2 separate regions of the Homo sapiens genome follow, and region 2 is linked to region 1. Evidence: fine-mapped expression QTL. Tissue or cell type: whole blood. Region 1 holds a variant in brackets; the other region holds the start of a gene. All regions are shown on one strand. Distances are between the middles of the regions. Region 1 overlaps PISD (phosphatidylserine decarboxylase). Region 2 holds the start of PISD (phosphatidylserine decarboxylase).

Evidence for each region. PIP is the estimated chance that this variant, and not a neighbour inherited with it, causes the effect.
Region 2: PISD starts here. The variant in region 1 is fine-mapped to the expression of PISD in whole blood (TOPMed, PIP above 0.99).

What each region holds. Positions count from the first base shown.
Region 1 is chr22:31,633,491-31,644,367 of GRCh38, reverse strand. The region is part of intron 3 of PISD (phosphatidylserine decarboxylase); the gene reads left to right. Among named protein-coding and RNA genes, the nearest start is that of MIR7109, 17 kb to the right of the region's middle. RefSeq lists an enhancer at 5,492-5,571 and a silencer at 10,214-10,263. The variant C/T (reference allele first, on the strand shown) is at 5,883.
Region 2 is chr22:31,657,022-31,667,898 of GRCh38, reverse strand. It overlaps PISD (phosphatidylserine decarboxylase), which reads left to right and starts at 5,684. Exons shown (of 8, transcript NM_001326411.2): 1 at 5,684-5,755. The coding sequence starts at 5,691. RefSeq lists enhancers at 2,417-2,918, 5,644-5,943, 6,184-6,233, 5,451-6,650, 6,624-6,763 and 2 more.

The DNA of each region.
Region 1 (10,877 bases):
CTTGGGAGGCTGAGGCAGGAGAATGGCGTGAACCCGGGAGGTGGAGGTTGCAGTGAGCTGAGATCATGCCACTGCACTCCAGCCTGGGTGACAGAGTGAAGACTCCATCTCAAAAAAAAAAAAAAGAAAAAATTATGAATTTGAATTCCTTAACTCCTAGAAATCTACAAAGTTTGGGCTAGGTGCAAGATCTGTGTTTTCCAGGAGCCCTGTAGGTGATTCTGATGATAAGCCAGCTTGAAGAACCAAAGGCAGATGAGCCCTACCTAATGTTCCCTTCAGGGCTACAGTTTTTTGTTTTTGTTTTTGTTTTTTTTTTTGAGACGGAGACTCGCCCTGTCACCCAGGCTGGAGTGCAGTGGCGCAATCTCGGCTCACTGCAACCTCTGCCTCTTGGGTTCAAGCCATTCTCCTGCCTCAGCCTCCTGAGTAGCTGGGATTACAAGTGCCCGCCACCAGGCCTGGCTAATTTTTTGTATTTTTAGTAGAGACGGGGTTTCACCGTGTTAACCAGGATAGTCTCGATCTCCTGACTTCGTGATCTGCCTGCCTTGGCCTCCCAAAGTGCTGGGATTACAGGCATGAGCCACCATGCACAGCCACTAATTTTTGTATTTTTTTGTAGAGATGGGGTTTCACCATGTTGCCCAGGGTGGTTTTGAACTCCTTAGCTCAAGTGATTCACCCACCTTGGCCTCCCAAAGTGCTAGAATTACAGGCATGAGCCACTGTGCCGGGCCAGTTTTAGGTTTTTGTTTTGTTTTGTTTTTCAGAGACAGGGTCTTGCTGTGCTAAGGCTGGAGAGTAGTGGTGTGATCATATCTTGCTACAGCCTTGAACTCCTGGGTTCACATGTTTCTTTCACCTTAGCCTTCCCAGTAGTGGACTGTAGGTATGTGCCACTTCGCCAGGGTAGTTTTATATTTAAGTCTTTTATCCATTTTGAATTAATTTTTATTTACGGTATAAGAGAAGAATCCAACGTCATTATTTTGCATGTGGGTATCCAGTTTTCCCAGCATCATTTGTTGAAAAGATTATCCTTTCTCTATTGAATGGTCTTGGCATGCTTGTAGAAATCAGTCTTACTCCCTGTTAAATGACGGAGATGAATATAGCAAACACTATGACAGAATGTTGGAAAACAGGGGACATGATGATTCCCACGCCTTCTTGCCATGTGACTGTGATTGCTTAATCATGCGCTTTGTTTTTTATGCATTCACTTCCTGTCTTTATCTCTATTTTCTTTTTTTTTTTTTTTTGAGATGGCATTTTGCTCTTGTTGCCCAGGCTGGAGTGCAGTGGCACAATCTCTGCTCACTGCAACTTCCGCCTCCCGGGTTCAAGCAATTTTCCTGCTTCAGCCTCCCAAGTAGGTAGGATTACAGGTGTGTGCCACCACGCCTGGCTAATTTAGTATTTTTAGTAGAGACGGGGATGCTCCATGTTGGTCAAGCTGGTCTCGAACTCCCGACCTCAGGTGATCCGCCCGCCTCAGCCTCCCAAAGTGCTGGGATTACAGGTGTGAGCCACCACGCCCGGCTTTTTTTCTTTCTTTTTTTTTTTTTTTGAAACTGAGTCTCGCTCTGTCTCCCAGGCTGGAGTCCAGTGGCGTGATCTTCGCTCACTGCAACCTCTGCCTCCCGGGTTCAAGTGATTCCCCTGCCTCAGTCTCCCAAGCAGCCGGGACTACAGGTGCGCGCACCACCACGCCCAGCTAATTTTTGTATTTTTAGTAGAGATGGGGTTTCACCGTGTTGGCCAGGATGCTCTCAATTTCCTGACCTTGTGATCCACCTGCCTTGGGCCCCCAAAGTGCTGGGATTACAGGTGTGAGCTACCACACCTGTCCTTTTTTCTGTATTTTTAAATTGATTCAGCTGTTTGTTTGTTTTTTGTTTTTCTTTTTTGAGGCAGGCTCTTGCTGTGTTGCCCAGACTGGAGTGCAGTGGCACAGTCACAGCTCACTGTAGCCTTAACCTTCCGAGTTTAAGCAGTCCTCTCACCTCAGCCTCCCAAGTAGCTGGGACATGGTGCACAGGCATGCACCACCACCACACTCAGCTAATTTTTTATTTTTTGTAGAGATGGGGTCTCACTATGTTGCCTAGGCTGGTCTCAAGCGATCCTCCCACCTTGGCCTCCCAAAGTGCTGGGATTCCAGGTGTGAGCCACCCTGGAGCCACTCTTGGCTCTTCCTCAGTGGTGACAGGCGCCCAGGTCCTGAAGTCTCTGGTTGCCACTGAGGCTTTACCACCTCAGTTGATTCTGGTATACTGGTGGTCTTTGCCACCATGAATAATGTTGCAGAGCATACCTTTGCACATAAAGCCTTTTCCTCATGATGAAAGCCTACGTGTAGGATTGCTGCCTGAAAGGGTATGGACACCTTTATGGTTTGTGGCATGCATTTGGCTTCTAAAACAATCGGAGTGTTTCCCCCTTATCCAAGGTTTCATGTTCCTGCAGTCTGAAAATATTAAATGTAAATTTCCAGAAATAATTCCTAAGTTTTTAAATTTTATCATTATTATTATTATTTTTTGAGATGGCGTCTCACTCTGTCGCCCAGGCTGGAGTGCAGTGGCGCGATCTCAGCTCACTGCAACCTGCGCCTCCCGGGTTCAAGCAGTTCTCCTGCCTCAGCCTCCCGAGTAGCTGGGATTACAGGCTTGTGGCACCACACCTGGCTAATTTTTTTGTGTGTTTTTAGTAGAGATCGGGTTTCACCATTGTTGGCCAGGCTGTTCTTGAACTCTTGACCTCAGGTGATCTGCCCACCTCAGCCTCCCAAAGCTGGGATTACAGGTGTGAGCCACCGCACCTGGCCACAATTCCTAAGTTTCAAATGTCTCCCTGTTCTGAGTAGCATAATGAACTCTCTCTCTCCCACCTAGGATATGAATCCTCCCTCTGTCCATTGTGACCTCAGTGTCTATGCTGCCTGCCCATAAGTCACTTAGTAGCCATCTCAGTTACCGTATCAGCTGTCGTGGTATTCTGGTGCTTGTGTTCAGGTCACCCTTATTTGGCTTAACACTGGCCCCAAAGTGCAATAATAGCAATTCTGGCAATTTGGATTGCCGAAGAGAAAGTGGTAAAGTGCCTTCTTTAAGTGAAAATGTGAAAGTTCTGGACTTCAAAAGGAAAGAAAAAAAATCATATGCTGATTTTGATAAGATCTATGGTAAGAGTGAATCTTTTATCCGTTAGTTGAGCATGATGTCGAGGTGGGTGGATCACCTGAGGTCAGGAGTTAAGACCAGCCCGACCAACATGGTGGAACCCCTCTTCTACTAAATACAAAAAATTAGCCGGGAGTGGTGGTGCATACTTGTAATCCCAGCTACTTGGGAGGCTGAGGCAGGAGAATCGCTTGAACCCAGGAGGTGGAGGTTGCAGTGAGCCGAGATTGCGCCATTGCACTCCAGCCTGGGCAGCAAGAGTGAAACTCCATCTCAAAAAAAAAAAAAAAAAAAAAAAACACCGGGTGTGGTGGCTCATGCCTGTAATCCCAGCACTTTGGGAGGCCGAGGCGGGTGGATCACCTGAGGTCAGGAGTTCAAGACCAGCCTGGCCCACATGGTGAAACCTTGTCTCTACTAAAAATACAAAAATTAGCCAGGCGTGGCGGCAGGCACCTGTAATCCCTGCTACTCGGGAGGCTGAGGTGGGAGAATTGCTTGAACCCAGGAGGCAGAGGTTGCAGTGAGCCGAGATCGTGCCATTGTACTCCAGCCTGGTTGACAGAGCGAGACTCCGTCTCAAAAAAAAAAAAAAAAAAAAAAACAACCAAACCGAAACAAAAAGGATGTTTTTATTTTAAGTTTTTATTTCACAGAATGATGTCTCTAGAAAGGGTAGCTTGAGGCCTGGAGTGGTGGCTCATGCCTGTAATCCCAGCACTTTGGGAGACTGAGGTGGCGGATCACTTGAGCTCAGGAGTTTGAGACCAATCCGCGCAACGTGGTGAAACCTCATCTCTGCTCAAAATACAAAAATCAACCGGTGTGGTGGCATGGGCCTGTGGTCCCAGCTACTTGGGAGGCTGAGGTGGGAGGATTGCTTGAGCCAGGAGGTAGAGGTTGCAGTGAGTTGAGATTGTGCCACTGCACTCCAGCCGGGGTGACAGAGCAAGACTCTGTCTCAAAAAAAAAAAAAAAAAGTAGCTTGAAATCGTGTTCTGGAAAGCTGCTTGCTGAGCTGCTCAGGTTGAAGACCCAGAGTGTTCCTTTTAGTTCCATTTAGCCCCGTCGCGTGGAGTGTGCGCAGCTTGAATAATGCTTTTTGGCTTCCAGAGTGCTATTCCCTTGAGTCCCTGATTCAACCTGTGGCCCATCAGTGGGCAGAGGTGATTTTCTGCAGGGTACCAAGGGCACTCTTGAAGGCAGGAGCTCAGGGACTGCTGAGAAGTAGAAGAGCCGCTTCTCTGAGTTTCTTTTCAGGAACTCATGATGTCCTGGGAACATTCTTGGTTCTTGGCCTGAGTGTTCACTTGGGTTCCACAGGTGTGGCTTGTGGCTTTGGCTGTTGACATAGAGGCCTGTGCTCAGAGCCGCGGTGAGTGAGCACAGACAGAGGGTGGGTGGCTACCAGGTACAGATCTGTAGTTTATGGATCCATAGTTTATACTGCTGCAGTGGTCATATGTCCTGCCTTTGTGTGGCGGTTGTGATTTCAGATATGCTGCCTATTTGTCCCCAAAAGTCATAAAAAAAATCATTCAGCAATCATGTCATATTGCCTGTTTCCTCTTTTCCTGAAATTGACAAATACTGTTTTAGATTATATCTCAAATTTTTGGTTACAAAACATCTAATTGAAAATATACACTTTCAGCTAGGCATGGTGGCTCATGCCTGTGATCCCAACACTTTGGGAGGCTGAGGTGGGAAGATTGCTTGAGCCCAGGAGTTCATGACCAGCCTGGCAAGGCAAGACTCTGTCTCTACAAAAAAATACATTAAAAAATTAGCCAGCCTGGCCAACATGGTGAAACCCCGTCTCTACTAAAAATGCAAAAACATTTGCTGGGTGTGGTGGCGGGCGCCTGTAATCCTAGCTAATTTGGAGGCTGAGACAGGAGAATCACTTGAACCCAGCAGGCGGAGGTTGCAGTGAGCCGAGACTGCGCCATTGCACTCCAGCCTGGTCAATGAAACTCTGTCTCAAAAAAAAAAAAAAGAAAAAGGAAAAGAAAAATTAGCCAGGGGTGGTGGTGTGTGTGCCTGTGGTCCCTGTTACCTGAGAGGCTGAGACAGGAGAATCGCTTGAACCTGGGAGGCGGAGGTTGCAGTGAGCTGAGATCATGCCACTGCACTCCAGCCTGGTGACAGAGCGAGACGCTGTCTCAGGGGGAAAAAAAGGAAAAAAAAGACAGGCTCTCACTCTGTCATCCAGTCTGGAGTGCAGTGGTGTGAGCAGGGCTCACCACGGCCTCGACCTCCCAGGCTCAGGTGATCCTCCCACCTCAGCTGAAACTGCGCCATTGCACTCCAGCCTAGGCAATAAGAACGAAACTCTATCTCAAAAAAAAAAAAAAAGAAAGAAAAAAAAAATGGAAAAGAAAAGAAAAATCAGCCAGGGGTGGTGGTGTGTGCCTCTGGTCCCAGCTGCCTGAGAGGCTGAGGCAGGAAGATCTCTTGAGCCCAGGAGTTTGAGAGCAGCCTGGGCAACATAGCAAAACCATGCCTCTACAAAGAAAAAACCATTAGCTAGTAGTAGAGACAGAACTGGTTTTTGTGGCAGAGGCTAGGGAAGGATGGGGGCAGATCTCTGAGGGGAGGAGTGGCCTGCGGGTGTCCTTACTACCCGTTTTGCCTCTCTTGGGGCAGCTGTGTCATTTCCTCTCTGCCGGTCTTCTTGGCCAACAAGCGTTT[C/T]TCCCTCTTCCCTGTTCTCCCCACTTCCCCACTTCATCCCCCTTCATCCCCCCTTCCTCGCCCCTCCACAGACCCAGGGCATTTGGTGGACACTTTTGCTTGCAGTTAGGTCAAGTGGAGGTGAGTTTCCCATGGGGCAGGGGCTTGACAGCAGGGGTGGCCGTCCAGACTCTCCAGAAGGGACGTGGGGCTGCTGTTGTGACTGGACCTGCCCCACATCTTTGGGCCTGAGCTGTGCCCGGTCACAGCGTCCTGAGTTCCTTTGTGTTGCCTCTGCCCCGTGGATCTAGGTCTTGGGGGAGGGCTGGTTTCATCCTGGGGCTACCACCACCTGGCAGCAGCCCCACAGCCAAGGGCAGGCACAGCCAAAATACATCTGCCTGAGTGGCCACAGAGCAGGGCCAGGCTCTCCTGGCCCAGTGGTTTGGAGGACAGAGGGCCTGGCCCGAGGGGAGGCACTTGCTCAGCCTGCGGCTCCCACGCCAAAGGCAGGGCGGCCTCTGGGTCTGTCTGGGGCCGAGCCTTATTTCTGGAAGCACATGGATCCTCCTTCCTTGCCACTCAGTCTAAATGTTTAGGTTACAAACATTCTGAGTGAGAAATTTCAGTCAGAGCTTGTAATGTGTAGGACGTGACATTAGGGAGTGAAGAGCTTTCCTCTTCACTGATTCAAGATAGCCAGTGCCGGGTGAGGGGAGCGGGACACTTGCTTCTTCAGAAGAGTGGATCCAAAAGTTGACCTCTTCCCCAGACTGAGTCAGCATGGGAAGAGAATTGTGCTTTCACAAAAGCAGAGATGCTTTTCTGTAGCTTTCACTGTTTCTTCTTTGCTCTGGAAAATGGAGGACGAAGGAGTTCTCAGGTCCTCAGTCACTGGAGTAAAGTGACATGCACGTCCCAGCGTGAGTGCCTGAATGGGTCTCTCAGGTCTGAACAGAACAGCCCTGTGGCTGCCGCGAGCTGGTGCAGGAGGAAGTACAGAGGAGGGTCCGGTTCAGAGTGGCGTGAGACCAGGGTTAGATGACTGTTGCCAGTTTAGGGCCAGTGAGAGATTTTTAATGGTAAATATGTAACCTCTTTTAAAAAAAAACAAAAACAAACAAAAAACACAACTTTTTCTTTTTTGAGAGAGTCTTGCTCTGTTGCCCAGGCTGGAGTGTAGCGGTGTGATCACAGCTTACTGCAGCCTCAACCTCCCAGGCTCAAGCGATCCTCCCACCTCAGCCTGCTGAGTAGCTGGAATTACTGGCGTGCACCACCATGCCCGGCTAATTTTTCTATATATATATATATATATATATATATATATATATATATATATTTTTTTTTTTTTTTTTTTTTTAATTTATTTATTATTATTTTTTTTTGTAGAGTTTTGCCGTGTTGCCCAGGCAGGTCTCAACCTCCTGGGCTCAAGTGATATAGCTGCCTTGGCCTCCCAAAGTGTTGAAATTATAGGCGTGAGCTACTGCGCCCAACGAATATGTAATCTTTTTAAAAAAAGGGAAAAGGTTGGGCGCGGTGGCTCACACCTGTAATCCCAGCACTTTGGGAGACCGAGATGGGTGGATCACGAGGTCAGGAGTTCAAGACCAGCCTGGCCAACATGGTGAAACCCCGTCTCTACTAAAAATACAAAAATTAGGCTGGGCGTGGTGGCTCATGCCTGTAATCCCAGCACTTTGGGAGGCTGAGGTGGGCAGATCACAAGGTCAGGAGATCGAGACCATCCTGGCTAACACGTTGAAACCCCGTCTCTACTAAAAAAAATACAAAAAATTAGCCGGGCGTGGTGGCGGGCGCCTGTAGTCCCAGCTACTTGGGAGGCTGAGGCAGGAGAATGGTGTGAACCTGGGAGGCAGAGCTTGCAGTGAGCCGAGATCGTGCCACTGCACTCCAGACTGGGAGAGAGAGTGAGACTCCATCTCAAAAACAAAAAAAAACAAAACCCAGAAATTAGCTGGGCGTGGTGGCGGGTGCCTGTAATCCCAGCTACTTGGGAGGCTGAGGCAGGAGAATCGCTTGAACCCGGAAGGTGGTTTTATTGTTTTGAGGCATGGCCCTGGGGGCTTGTGGCAAGGGCTGAGGTGTTTGGGGAGCAGCAGTGCAGGAAAGGCCTTACTCAGCTGGGCTTGCAGGTATGCTCACTCCTGTCTGAGCGCTGCTTCCTTGTTTCTAGCCTCCGTTTAGAATAAAAAAAAAATGTATAGTACAGTATTCCAATTCATCAAAAGGAATAAAGACAGATCAGCCTGTCTGGTCTACCACCATTCAGCCTAAGCATAAGGCAGAACCCTGTGAAGTGGCCTGTGTCCTCCTTCTCTCCCTGTCCCCTTCCTGGAGCCCCATGGGCCTGTGCTCAGCACGCGTCCTGGCGCCGCGGTGTACCTGGTAGTGGGCAGTATCGGACGTGTTCTCCATGTTGGTGAGCGATGTACATGCTGTAGCTTTATTATTCTCATCTATAAATAGGGCCATTCATGCCCTCATAAAGTTGTTAAATAAGAGTGATGTGTATGTAAATACCTGGCCCCATGCTGGCAGGGAGTGGAGCTTTAGTACTATTTTACTTCTTACCTAATAGGTGTGAGTGTGGAAATGGGCAAATAGTCAAGTTGGCAGGGAAGCAGAGCCTCCTGCCTGCCCCAGTGCCACCTGAACTCCTGTAGTGTTCTTATGCCACTGGAACTGGCTGGCAGGGGCCAGCTCTGACCTCAGAGAATTGTGGGCTCACTCTAGGGCAGGAGGAGATCGCAGAGGGCGGAACGGTGGCTCATACAGCCATGCCCCCAGGTGGCCCAGGACCCACCTGGGAGCTACCTCCAATGGCTTTGAGCGGTCAGTGTGTGGACAAGCGGAGGGACCGTGTCTCAAGAATATGTGGAACTCAGCGGGGCATGGTGGCTGACGCCCGTAATCCCAGCACTTTGGGAGGCAGGCAGATCACCTGAGGTCAGGAGTTTGAGATGAGCCTGGCCAACATGGTGAAACCCCATCTCTACTAAAAATACAAAAATTAGCCCAGTGTGGTGGCAGGTACCTGTAGTCCCAGCTACTTGGGAGGCTGAGGCATGAGAATTGCTTGAACCCGGGAGGCAGAGGTTGTGGTGAGCCAAGATCATTCCACTGCACTCCAGCCTGGGGGATAGAGTCAGACTCTGTCTCCAAAAAAAAGACATGGAACTTAAACACAAGGCTAAACTTCTGGGCTGGAAGGAATCGAGGGATGGCCGACTCAAGATACCTGCAGCCCTGCATGAAGCTGTCTGCCAGGAGGCTCTACCTAAAAGCAGTTTTGTTTTGTTTTGTTTTGTTTTTTGAGACGGAGTTTTACTCTTGTTGCCCAGACTGGAGTGCAATGGCACGATCTCAATTCATTGCAACCTCCACCTCCCAGGTTCAAGCGATTCTCATGCCTCAGCCTCCTGAGTAGCTGGGATTACACGTGCGTGCCACCACACCTGAGTAATTTTGTATTTTTAGTAGAGACAGGGTTTCACCATGTTGGCCAGGCTGGTCTTGAACTCTTGACCTCAGGTGATCCGCCCACCTCAGCCTCCCAAAGTGTTGGGATTACAGGCATGAGTCACCGTGCCAGGCCTAAAAGCACTTTTTCTTTTTCTTTTTCTATTTTTTTTTTTTTTTTTTTTTGAGATGGAGTCTTGCTCTGTCACCCAGGCTGAATGCAGTGGCAATCTCAGCTCACTGCAACCTCTGCTTCCTAGGTTCAAGCGATTCTCCCACCTCAGCCTCCCGAGTAGCTGGGATTACAGGCGTGCACCACCACACCTGGCTAATTTTTGTATGTTTAGTAAAGATGGGGTTTCACCATGTTGGCCAGGCTGGTGTTGAACTTCTCACCTCAGGTGATCTGCCCACCTTGACCTCCCAAAGTGCTGGGATTACAGACACTAAGTCACCACGTCTGGCCTAAAGCACTTTTTCTGAATTCCACCCCAGTCTGCCCTTCCTGAGTGCCTGGGCAGGGCCCTTGGGGAGCTGCTGGTGGGGCTCTGAATGTGCCAGGGGTATCCGGGACATCTTGCAGGCTAGTGGGACTGCCAAAAACGATTCTCAAAGATGAGTGGGGAGTTGGGCAGGGATAGGAGAATCTGGTGTGTAGAGAAATAGCCTGAAGGCACTTTGTGCTTGCCTGGCCTCTCTGCCCAGACGTTGGGGAGGCTGATGCCTGCCTGTGGTTTCTTGTACTAGCCGTTAAGACCCCAGCCATCTTCCTTGAGGGGCTTCTGCCAGCCCCCAGGGAATGAGAATTAGCCAAGAGCCAGGAAATGAGAATTAGCTGAGGACACCTTTTACCCCTGTTCCGCAGCTACCTTCTGTTCCCTGGCACAGGGCATCCCCTTAGAAGTAGTGCATGAAATTCACACAGCTGGGACCTGGCAGAGAATACAGGTGGCTTGACTGAGGCAGGGAGGCCTCCATCTGCAGGTGGCCTGAGAGCCTGCAGAGCCTCACAGTGGCACTAGGTGGCACTCCCACCCAAGGGAGTCCTAACAGAGTGGGAGGCGTGGAAATAAAGGACTCCATGGCCTGAAGGAAATAAATACAAGGTAGGAAAGTAAATTTCCAGACAATTTTTTTTCCCTAATGGAAATTCACTTGTAAGTGATTGTTCAAAATCCAGAGGCATTTCCCCACTGAAAATATGTGTGGTGGAGGTCTGGTTGGAAGGTGGGGTAGTGCTAATCTCGGCCAACTTGTGGGCTGGTTTATGGGTTTCGTTTGTTTGTTTGTTTGTTTGTTTGTTTTTTGAGACGAGTCTCGCTCTGTCGCCCAGGCTGGAGTGCTATGGTACGATCTCGGCTCACTGCAACCTCCACCTCCTGGGTTCACGCCATTCTCCTGCCTCAGCCTCCTGAGTAGCTGGGACTACAGGCGCCCGCCACCATGCCTGGCTAATTGTTTGTATTTTTAGTAGAGATGGAGTTTCACCGTGTTAGCCAGGATGGTCTCGATCTCCTGACCTCGTGATCC
Region 2 (10,877 bases), 24 kb before region 1:
AATGTACAAGGATTCCAGTTTTTCCCACATCCTCTCCAATGCTTGTCATCTTCCTTTTTTTTTTTTTTTTTTTGGAGATGGAGTCTTGCTCTGTCACCCAGGCTGGAGAGCAGTGGCGCAATCTCAGCTCACTGCAACCTCCGCCTTCTGGGTTCAAGTGATTCTACGGCCTCAGCCACCTGAGTAACTGGTATTACAGTTACTCGGCTCACTGCAACCTCTGCCTCCCAGGTTCAAGCGATTCTCTTGCCTCAGCCTCTTGAGTAGCTGATATTACAGTTACTCGGCTCACTGCAACCTCCGCCTCCCAGGTTCAAGCGATTCTCTTGCCTCAGCCTCCTGAGTAGCTGGGAGTACAGGCATGCACCACCACACCCAGCTAATTTTTGTATTTTTACTAGAGACAGGGTTTTACCATATTGGCCAGGCAATCTCGAACTCCTGACCTCATGATCCGCCCTCCTTGGCCTCTCAAAATGCTGGGATTACAGGTGTGAGCCACCGAGCCCAGCCCGACCAGCTAATTTTGTCTCTACTAAAAAGTAGAGACAGGGTTTCACCATGTTGGCCTGGCTGGTCTTGAACTCCTGACCTCAGGTGATCCACCCACCTTGGCCTTCCAAAGTGTTGGGATTACAGGTGTGAGCCACTGTGCCCAGCCTAAAATCAACCATTTTAAAGTGGACAATTCAGTGACATTTAGTACATTCACAACGTGGTGTACCATTTCTGTCTAATTCAGGACAAATTTTATCATCTCAAAATAAAACCTTGTTGTGCCTATCAGGTAGTTACCAATGTTTCCCAATTTTAACAGATTAAGAAATGGACTAAGACAATAGGAAAAGTGCTGGCTGGGAGCCATGGCTCACACTTGTAATCCCAACTTTTTGGGAGGTCGAGGTAAGAGGATTACTTGAGCCTAAGAGTTGGAGACCAGCCTGGGTAACATAGTGAGACCCTCATCTCTATAAAAAATACAAAATAAGCTGAGTGTGGTGGTGTGCACCCGTAATCCCAGCTACTCGGGAGGCTGAGGTGGGAGGATTGCTTGAGCCTGGGAGGTCCAGGTTGCAGTGAGCCATGATTGTGCCACTGCACTCTAGCCTGGGTGTCAGAGCAATATCCTGTCTCAAAAAAAAAAAAAAAAAAAAAGAAAAAGAAAAAGAAAAAAAGTGCTAAGGACCCACAACAAAATTTTTAATATTAAAATTAAAAAATGAGGCTGGGTGCGATGGCTCATGCCTGTAATCCCAACACTTCGGGAGGCCGAGGCAGGAGGATCACTTGAGCCCCCGAATTTGGGATCAGCCTGGCCAACATGACGAAACCCTGTCTCTCTAAACAAAAATACAAAATTTAGCCAGGCGTGGTGGCCAGTGCTTGTAATTGAAGGCACTGGAGAGGCTGAGGCAAGAGAATCGTTTGAACCCGGTAGGCGGAGATTGCAGTGAGCCGATATCGCGGGCCACTGCACTCCAGCCTGGGCCACAGAGTGAAACTCTGTCTCAAAGGAAAAAAAGGAAAAGAATATAATAATAATGAATTCAGCTTGGATTTATAAATATAAATGTGTTAATATAAAGACAATAGTCTTTATACCAATACGGTTGTAAAATAAAATTCTTAATTTTTTATGGAGAAAAGGGTCAGTCCACTGAGGCAAAAGTGCTTGGGGCTCACGAAAGCCTCGAAGCTCTGCCACTACCATCCACACTGCAAAAATCCTTTGAAAACAAAATTGAGGCAAGCTCGTTTTTTTTTTTTTTCTTGAGACGGAGTCTCGCTCTGTCGCCCAGGCTGGAGTGCAGTGGCGCTATCTCAGCTCACTGCAAGCTCTGCCTTCCGGGTTTACGCCATTCTCCTGCCTCAGCCTCCAGAGTAGCTGGGACTACAGACGCCCGCCACCACGTCCGGCTAATTTTTTTGTATTTTTAGTAGAGACGGGGTTTCACCGTGTTAGCCAGGATGGTCTCGATCTCCTGCCCTCGTGATGCGCACGTCTCCGCCTCCCAAAGTGCTGGGATTACAGGCGTGAGCCACCGCGCCCAGCCAAGCAAGCTCGTTCTTAAATGCTAGGCTAATTCTGCCCCCTAGCGGCCACAGAGAAATCTCAGAAATTAATGCCCCCAGTTGTTGAGTAATTCGCACCTACCAGGTGCCTTGAACTTACGCTGCATTATTTTGTCCTCACAATTCCATGAGGTTAAGTGATATCCAAATGTATAGATAAGCTGCCGAAGATTCGAGTGCTTAAGTCGGTTTGTTGTTGTTTTTTTTTGAGACGGGGTCTCAAAAGACAGGATCTTACGGAAGTTAATGCTGTTTCCTACTGAAGGAGGCACAGCGAGCGCAAGCCTTGGTGGGCAGGAAGCGTGCTTTAAAGTTTGAGACTGTCAGGCCCGGCGCGGTGGCTCACGCCTGTAATCCTGGCACTTTGGGAGGCCGAGGCGGGCAGACTTGAGGTCAGCAATTTGAGACCAGTCCGGCTAACATGATGAAAACCCGTTTCTACTAAAAATTCGAAAATTAGCTGGGTGTGTGGCACGCCTGTAGTCCCAGCTACTCGGAAGGCTGAGGCAGGAGAATCGCTTGAACCCGGGAGGTGGAGGCTGCAGTGAGCCGAGATCGCATCTCTGCACTCCAACCTGGGCAACAGAGTGAGGCTCTGTCTCAAAAAATAAAGTTGGAGACTTTTATTCTAAAAGCATTCAGTGAGCCATTTATTTATTTATTTTCCTGTAAGCTTGGAAAAATAGGTTCTTCCCCACCCATCTACATGACAGTAATGAGCAAATATCCTTATCAGATAATACATGATTTGCAAACATTTTCTTTCATTCTGTGGGTTGCCTTTTCTCTCTCTCTCTCTTTTTTTTAAGGCAGAGTTTCACTCTTGTTGCCCAGGCTGGAGTGCAATGGTACGATCTCGGCTCACCACAACCTCCACCTCCCATATTCAAGTGATTCTCTTGCCTCAGCCTCCCGAGTAGATGGGATTACAGGCTTGCGCCACCACATGCGGCTAATTTTTGTATTTTTACTACAGACAGGGTTTCACCACGTTGGCCAGGCTAGTCTCCAACTCCTGATCTCAGGTGATCTGCCCGCCTTGGCCTCCCAAAGTGCTGGGGTTACAGGCGTGAGACACCGCGCCCAGCGTCTTTTCACTCTCTTGATAGTGTTCTTTGATGCACAAAAGTTTTAATTTCGAAGTATATCTTTTTGTTGTTTTTGTTGTTGTTGCCTGTGCTTTTAACGTCATATACAAGAAATCATTGCTAAATCCAACGTCATGAAGATTTCCCCTATGTTTTCGTCTAAGAGTATTATAGTTTTAGCTCTTCAGTTTACATCTCTGATCCATTTTGAATGAATTTTTGTATATGGTGTAAGGCTGCACTTTACTTTTTGTATATGGATATTCAGTTTTCCCAATGCACTTCATTTGGAAATAATTTCCCCCCATTCCCTGCTGGTTTACTACTCTCAATTGGATAGTAAAACCAATTAAACCAATATGTATTTTTTTTTTAAATGGTGTCTCACTCTGTCTCCCAGGCTGGAGTGCAATGGCATTATCTCAGCTCACTGCAACCTCCCCCTCCCGGGTTCAAGCAATTCTCGTACCTCAGCCTCTGGAGTAGCTGGGATTACAGGCAGGCGCCACTATGCCCAGCTAATTTTTGTATTTTTAATAGAGATGGGGTTTCACCATGTTGGCCAGGCTGGTCTCGAACTCCTGACCTCAGGTGATCCGCCCGCCTTGGCCTCCCAAAGTGCTGGGATCATAGGGTGAGCCACGGTGCCCAGCCTCTTAAAAAAAAAAAAAAAGAGATGGAGTCTCACTATGTTGTCCAGGCTGGTCTCTTTTTTACTTCCTTTTTTTTTTTTTTTTTTTTTTTGAGACGGAGTCTCACTCTGTCACCCAGGCTGGAGTGCAATGGCGCGATCTCGGCTCGCTGCAAGTCCGCCTCCCGGGTTCACGCCATCCTCCTGCCTCAGCCTCCAGAGTAGCTGGGACTACAGGCGCCCGCCACCACGCCCGGCTAATTTTTTTTGTATTTTTAGTAGAGATGGGGTTTCATCGTGTTAGCCAGGATGGTCTCAATCTCTTGACCTCGTGATCCGCCCACCTCGGCCTCCCAAAGTGCTGAGATTACAGGCGTGAGCCACCGCGCCCGGCCCAGGCTGGTCTCAACTCCTTGGCTCAAGCTATCCTCCCACCTCAGCCTCCCAGTGAGTGGGGATTGCAGGCGTGAGCCACTGCGCCCGGCCAAAACCAATTCTATACATTTGTTTTTTTCTTTTCCGACTTTTGAAAACCATGACAAAGGGAGGTTTCTTCCCCCCAATACCAAACCTGGTGCCTTTTAAGCTCTCTGTAGGAGCTGAGTATGCCCTAGTTGAACTTAAGCCAACTACACAGAAATACCTGCAGGGACCAGGGAGCATATTCCTCCTCCTGTCAAATGCCTGGTGAAGGCAACTGTGATTATCAGCTTAGCAGATGAAAAAGTAGGGCTGCATTCCTTCAGTTGTTGGACCCAAATTCTGCCAGATTCTGACAAAGGGCTTAAAAGGAAGAATGTTTAGGCCAGGTGCGGTGGCTCACGCTTGTAATCCCAGCATTTTGAGAAGCCGAGGCGGGCGGATCACGAGGTCAGGAGATCGAGACCATCCTGGCTAACATGGTGAAACCCCGTCTCTACGAAAAATATATATAAAAAAATTAGCCGGGCGTTGTGGCGGGCGCCTGTAGTCCCAGCTACTCGGGAGGCTGAGGCAGGAGAATGGCGTCAACCCGGGAGGCGGAGCTTGCAGTGAATCGAGATCGCGCCACTGCACTCCAGCCTGGGCGACAATGAGAGACTCTGTCTCAAAAAAAAAAAAAAAAGAAGAAGATGTTTAGGACATGGTTTTTGGAGTCAGAGACGTATGTTCAAATTCTGGCTTCACTATTTTATAGTCTTTGGGCATATGCCCTTTATGTACCCTTGAAGATGTTGCTTAACCTTCCTGAGCCTCAGGTACCTCATCTTTAAAATGGGGATAATGTCTCGGGCCTAGCTGCGAGTCTCTAGTCAGTGCTCAGTAAAAAGTAGCAGACATGATTGAAAACTCGTTTTCCTCTTACAATTGAAGATAGGAACCTTTTCAAGAGCAAGCACCAGGCACCGAATTTAACGACTGGTTGCATTTCTAGGTGATCCAAGACCGTTTGCCCCCGGTCTCCCTGGCAGCACAGCGGTAGGAGATAAGAATGATATGACACCATGCTTGCAAAGTGCTCACAACACACTCCGGCGCTTAAAAAACGAGAGCTGAGTCATGGATGCCCAGTTTCCCCATCCGTAAAATGAGCAAGTTCGATCACTTGAAACGACATTCTTGGATCTTGGATGACTCAGATTTTCCAGGTACATGAGGAAAGGCACCCAGAGGGAAGGAGGAGGAGTGGCAGTGCTGCGACCAAGCCCAGGTTTAGCGAAACCTACAGCTCCACTAGTTCCCCTACCTCCGCAGGTGCCAAGCGGGTTAGGTGGGGAGTAGCCACAGGGCGGAGCTTAGTCGGCTCCGCCCCCAACCCGCGCTTTTCTCATTGGCCCACTGAACTCGAGACTCGTGACGCCTTAAGCGTGCGCCCAGCGTGTGAAGGGGGCGTGGCACGCTGAGAAGGAGCAGACAAGATGGCGACGTCCGTGGGGCACCGATGTCTGGGATTACTGCACGGGGTCGCGCCGTGGCGGAGCAGGTATAGCAGCGCGGAGAGACTACCTTGGGGCGTGGGGCAACCTGGACCAAGCTGGGGTCTGAAGAGAGATGTTTCTGTGTCGCGGGCTCGCTCTGAGGCGAGCTCGGGTGGAGACGGAGCCACCTTCACCTCGAGCTTAGGAGCAGGTGCGACTGCTCCTGCGTAGGGCGGTCCGGATTTACTTAGGGTGTGGCCTAGAAGCTCGCGCTTTGCCCTTTCCAGCTAGGTGGAAGTTCACGAGGGACAAAAATCAGATGAAATAGGCTACCTGCCCGTCTCTTGAGTCGAGGCAGGGCTTTCAGATGTTCAGATGCCATTTTCTCGTGTGTTCGTTTTCGTAGAAGGAATGATGTCCTGTGGGAAGGACACTAGATTGAGTGTCAGGCAACTTTCATTTCTGGATCTTAGTCTTTGAAGCTAGAGGGTTAGGTTAGGTAATCTCAAAACAATATGTTATGGGGCTAGAGTCTTGGTTACCCTTGTGACCCCCAGCTGTTAGATTCTTAGAAATGTGGGAGACTTGAGGGGTCTTCTGAGTCCAGCTGTCTCTCTTTGGAGTTAATGAGATTGAGGCTCCGAGAGAGGGAGGGATTTGCTCAAGTTCACCTAGCCAGTTTGTAGCAGAGCCCGGACCCCCATCAAGGTACCCCCTCACGCGACGATCTTTCTCTCAGGCTGCCCGCCGTGAGGGCAGTGGTTATACAGAAAATAGCTTAGAGCATTTGGAGTGTCGGAAAATGGATTAAAATGTAGCTGTGATTCAGAGTCGGCTGCCTGGTGTCATTTCAAAGAGCTAAGATTTGAGAGATGCGCCATACTTGTGTGTTTCCTACAGGGTTCATTTTGTCAGCGTTGATCAGAGGATAACCTATTGTTTTGGGAGGAGACGGACACTGGATTTGGACTGAGAGGGAACAGAAACCATCATTGGTCTTGTTATGAAAGCGTCACTCTTTCATCATTAACTGTACAGAAATGATTATCTCTCAGGAGAGGGCTCTGCATTGTGGTGGTAACTGTTAGAATTTGGGCAGGAGACTTTGTTTTCAATGTTATTACCAGGCGTGCTGTGTATGAGTCAACCCTGAATTCATTTAAAGTGTGTCACAGGCTGGGCGCGGTGGCTCACGCCTGTAACCTCAGCACTTTGGTAGGCCAAGGTGGGTGGATCACTTGAGGTCAGGAGTTCGAGACCAGCCTGGCCAATGTGGTGAAACCCTGTCTCTACTAAAAAATACAAAAATTAGCCGGGCATGGTGGCAGGCACCTGTAATCCCAGCTACTTGGGAGGCTGAGGCAGGAGAATTGCTTGAACCTGGGAGGCGGAGGTTGCAATAAGCCAAGACTGCGCCGCTGGAGTCCAGCCTGGGCGACAGAGTGAGACTCTGTCTCAAAAAAATTAAAAATAAATAAAGTGTGTCACGAATTGAAAGGACTAAAATGAGACTCTTAAAAAATTGTTTTTTGTTGTTGTTATTTGTTTTGGAAGTCAGAGCCTCACTCTGTTGCCCAAGAGGGAGTGCAGTGGTGTGATGATGGCTCACTGCAGCCTCCACCTCCTGGTCTCAAGCAGTTCTTCCACCTCAGCCTCCTGAGTAGCTAGGACCACAGGTGCACGCCACCCCGCCCAGCTGCATTTTTTTTGGGGGTGGGGGTGGAGACAGGGTTTCACCATGTTGCCCAGGCTGGTGTTGAACTCCTGGGCTCAAGTGATCCACCCACTTTCACCTCTCTAAGTGCTGGCATTACAGAAGTGAGCCATCGCAGTCCACCTAAAATAATTTTTTTAAATGATGAGAGGAGGCTGTACCTCAGTCACCATCATTAAAAGGGAAAGAAAAAAAGCTATGTTTTAGTACCAGTGTAGATAGATAAGGCTAGACTTAGATGCAGTGGGTGAGAGAGATGAAGATTTGGGTACAATAAGAAACCTTAATTTTCAAAGGTATTCTATATCAAGATAGAAATGATATTAATACACAAACCAAAAAGATAACATTTCTGTGGGTTTTTAGTAAACCAGTGCCTATTTGTGAGACATGTAAATGAAAACCTTATATTTCAGGTAAGTTTTTCAATAACTGGGTGATGTGTGACAGGTGATAGATAACATCTTGGGTGATAATTTAGGGCCATGTTTCCTAAACTCATTTGATAAAAGAATGGGCTGAATGGGCTGGGATGCTTGTTAGAAATAGAGATTCCTTGGGAGTCTCTCTGAGCCTGCTGTAGTTTGGGAGGCTGGCTGATTAAAAAAAACAAAGCCGGGCACGGTGGCGCATGCCTGTAATCCCAGCACTTTGGGAGGCCAAGGTGGGTGGATCATGAGGTCAGGAGATCGAGACCAGCCTGGCCAACATGCTGAAACCCCGTCTCTAACAAAAATTAGCCGGGTGTGGTGGCGTGTGTCTGTAGTCCCAACTACTCAGGAGGTTGAGGCAGGAGAATCTCCTGAACCCGGGAGGCGGAAGTTGCAGTGAGCCGAGATCACGCCACTGGACTCCAGCTTCGGCAACAGAGCAAGACTCCGTCTCAAAAAAAAAAAGATTCCAGATATGCCCCCATCCTACTGCCAATTTCAGATTCAGTAGATATAAGTTGGGGCTCTGGCAACTGTAGTTTTTACAGGTGATTCTTAGGTTCAGGCAAGTACGGACAATAGTACCTAGGAAGTAGCTTCTCGTGCATGACTTCCATCAGAAATATTTATGGCATCCCTACCACTGCAAACCACACTGTCAACGGACCATAGAGAAGGGAGAAGAGAGAAGGGAAGGGGAGCAAATGAAGAAATTAAAAACATTTGAAATAGGCCTTGTCTTCAAGGAACTTTACTATATACTTGTAATACATGGTGGAATACGGGATAAAGCCTTCAAGAGGTCTGTCCGTTCTGTTTTAGGAGAACTTTCACAGCTTTAGAAAGCAAGGGAGACATAAGGACTATAGGCAAAATGTTACTACTAGGGGTGATGTTAAAAATGTCTTAGGCCTGGGCGTGGTGTCTCATGCCTGTAATCCCAGCATTTTGGGAGGCTAAGGCGGGTGGATTGCATGAGCTCAGGAGTTCAAGACCAGCCTGGGCAACATGGCAAAAACCCATCTGTACAAAAAACACAAAAATTAGCTGGTCATAGTGGTGCATACATGTAGTCCCAGCCACCTGGGAGGCTGAGGTAGGAGGATTGCCTGAGCCCAGGAGGTTGAGGCTGCAGTGAGCCAAGATCATGCCACTGCACTCCAGCCTGGGCAACAGAGTGAGACCCTGTCTCAAAAAAAAAAAAAAAAGAAAAAGAAAAAATAGTGCAACTGGCCAGGTGTGGTGGCTTATGTCTGTAATCTCAACACTTTGGGAGGCTGAGGCAGGAGAATTGCTTGAGCCCAAGAGTTCGAGACCAACCTGAGCAACATAGTGAGACCTCCTCTCCGCAAAAAATGGCTGGGTGCACATCTGTGGTCCCAGCTACTTGGGAAGCTAAGGTGGGAGGTTCACTTGTGCCCAGGAGGTCGAGGCTGCAGTGAGCTGTGATTTCACCACTGCATTCCAGCCTGGGTGACAGAGTGAGACCCTGTCTCAAAAAACAAACAAACAAACAAACAAACTTATAACCAGGATGCCATGGAGACAGACTAGTGAGAGTGAATGCTGGTCATAGATGATTGATATGACCATCTCAGTGTATGTCAGCTGAATATCAACTCTTAATAATAACAGTCTAACTAGGTGCCAGGCCCTGAGCTAAGGTTTTGCATGATTGTCTTCTAATGAGGTGAGTTTTGTTTTTGCAGGTGGAGAAACTGAGGCTTAAGATTAGTTAAGAAATTTCCTAAGGTCACACAGCTGCTAAGAAGTGGCAGCGCTGAGATTTGAGTTGCACAGGCAGACTGGAGTGCTCAATTGTGGGCTTTAATTGCCTACTTGAAGGATGCGATGTAGAATGCATGTAGAAGAGACATCTGTTTGAACCCATCCATTCATCTTTCTGGGGCATACTGTCACTATTGAGATTGAAGGCCAGTGAGAACACAGATAAACCCCGTGTTCATCGAGGTATACATACAGTAAACAAATAACTGAATACATGCAGAATCCATTCATTTTGTGTAATAAGAAATGCCATGAAGAAAAAGAAAGCAAGATAATTAAGAAGTTAGTGCTCAACAGAAAGACAAACTTTGCATGTTCTCACTTATTTGTGGGAGCTGTAAATTAAAACGGTTGAACTCATGGAGATAGTAGAAGGATGGTTACCAGAAGCTGGAAAGGGTAGTGGGGGGATGGGAAGAAATGGGGATGGTTAATGGGTATCAAAAAAATAAAATGGGCTGGGTGCAGTGGCTCACGCCTGTAATCCCAGCACTTTGGAGGCCCAGGCGGGTGGATCACCTGAGGTCAGGAGTTCAACACCAGCGTGGCCAACAAACCCTGTCACTACTAAAACTACAAAAAAAAATTAGCCGGGTGTGGTGGTGTGCTCCTGTAATCCCAGCTACTCAGGAGGCTGAGGTAGGAGAATTCCTTGAACCTGGGAGTCAGAGGTTGCAGTGAGCTGAGATTGCGCCATTGCACTCCAGCCTGGGCAACAGAGCAAGATGCCATCTCAAAAAAATATATAAAATAAAATGAATAAGACCTAGTGTTTGCTAGCACAACAGGGTGACTATTGTCAAAAATAATTTAAAATTATTACATTTAAAAATAACTAAAAGGCTGGGTGCGGTGGCTCACGCCTGTAATCCCAGCACTTTGGGAGGCTGAGGCGGGTGGATCACGAGGTCAGGAGTTCAAGATCAGTCTGGCCAAGAAGGTGAAACCCCATCTCTACTAAAAATACAAAAAATTAGCCAGGCATGGTGGTGGGTGCCTGTAATCCCAGCTACTCGGGAGGCTGAGGCAGAGAATTGCTTGAACCCAGGAGGCGGAGGTTGCGGTGAGCTGAGATCATGCCACTGCACTCCAGCCTGGGCGACAGAGCAAAACTCCATCTCAAAAAAACAAAACAAAACACTAAAAGAGTATAACTGGATTGTTTGTAACACAAAGCTTAAATGCTTGAGGGGATAGATATCCCATTTACCTAATGTGATTATTCCATATTGCGTGCCTGTATCAAACTAGCTC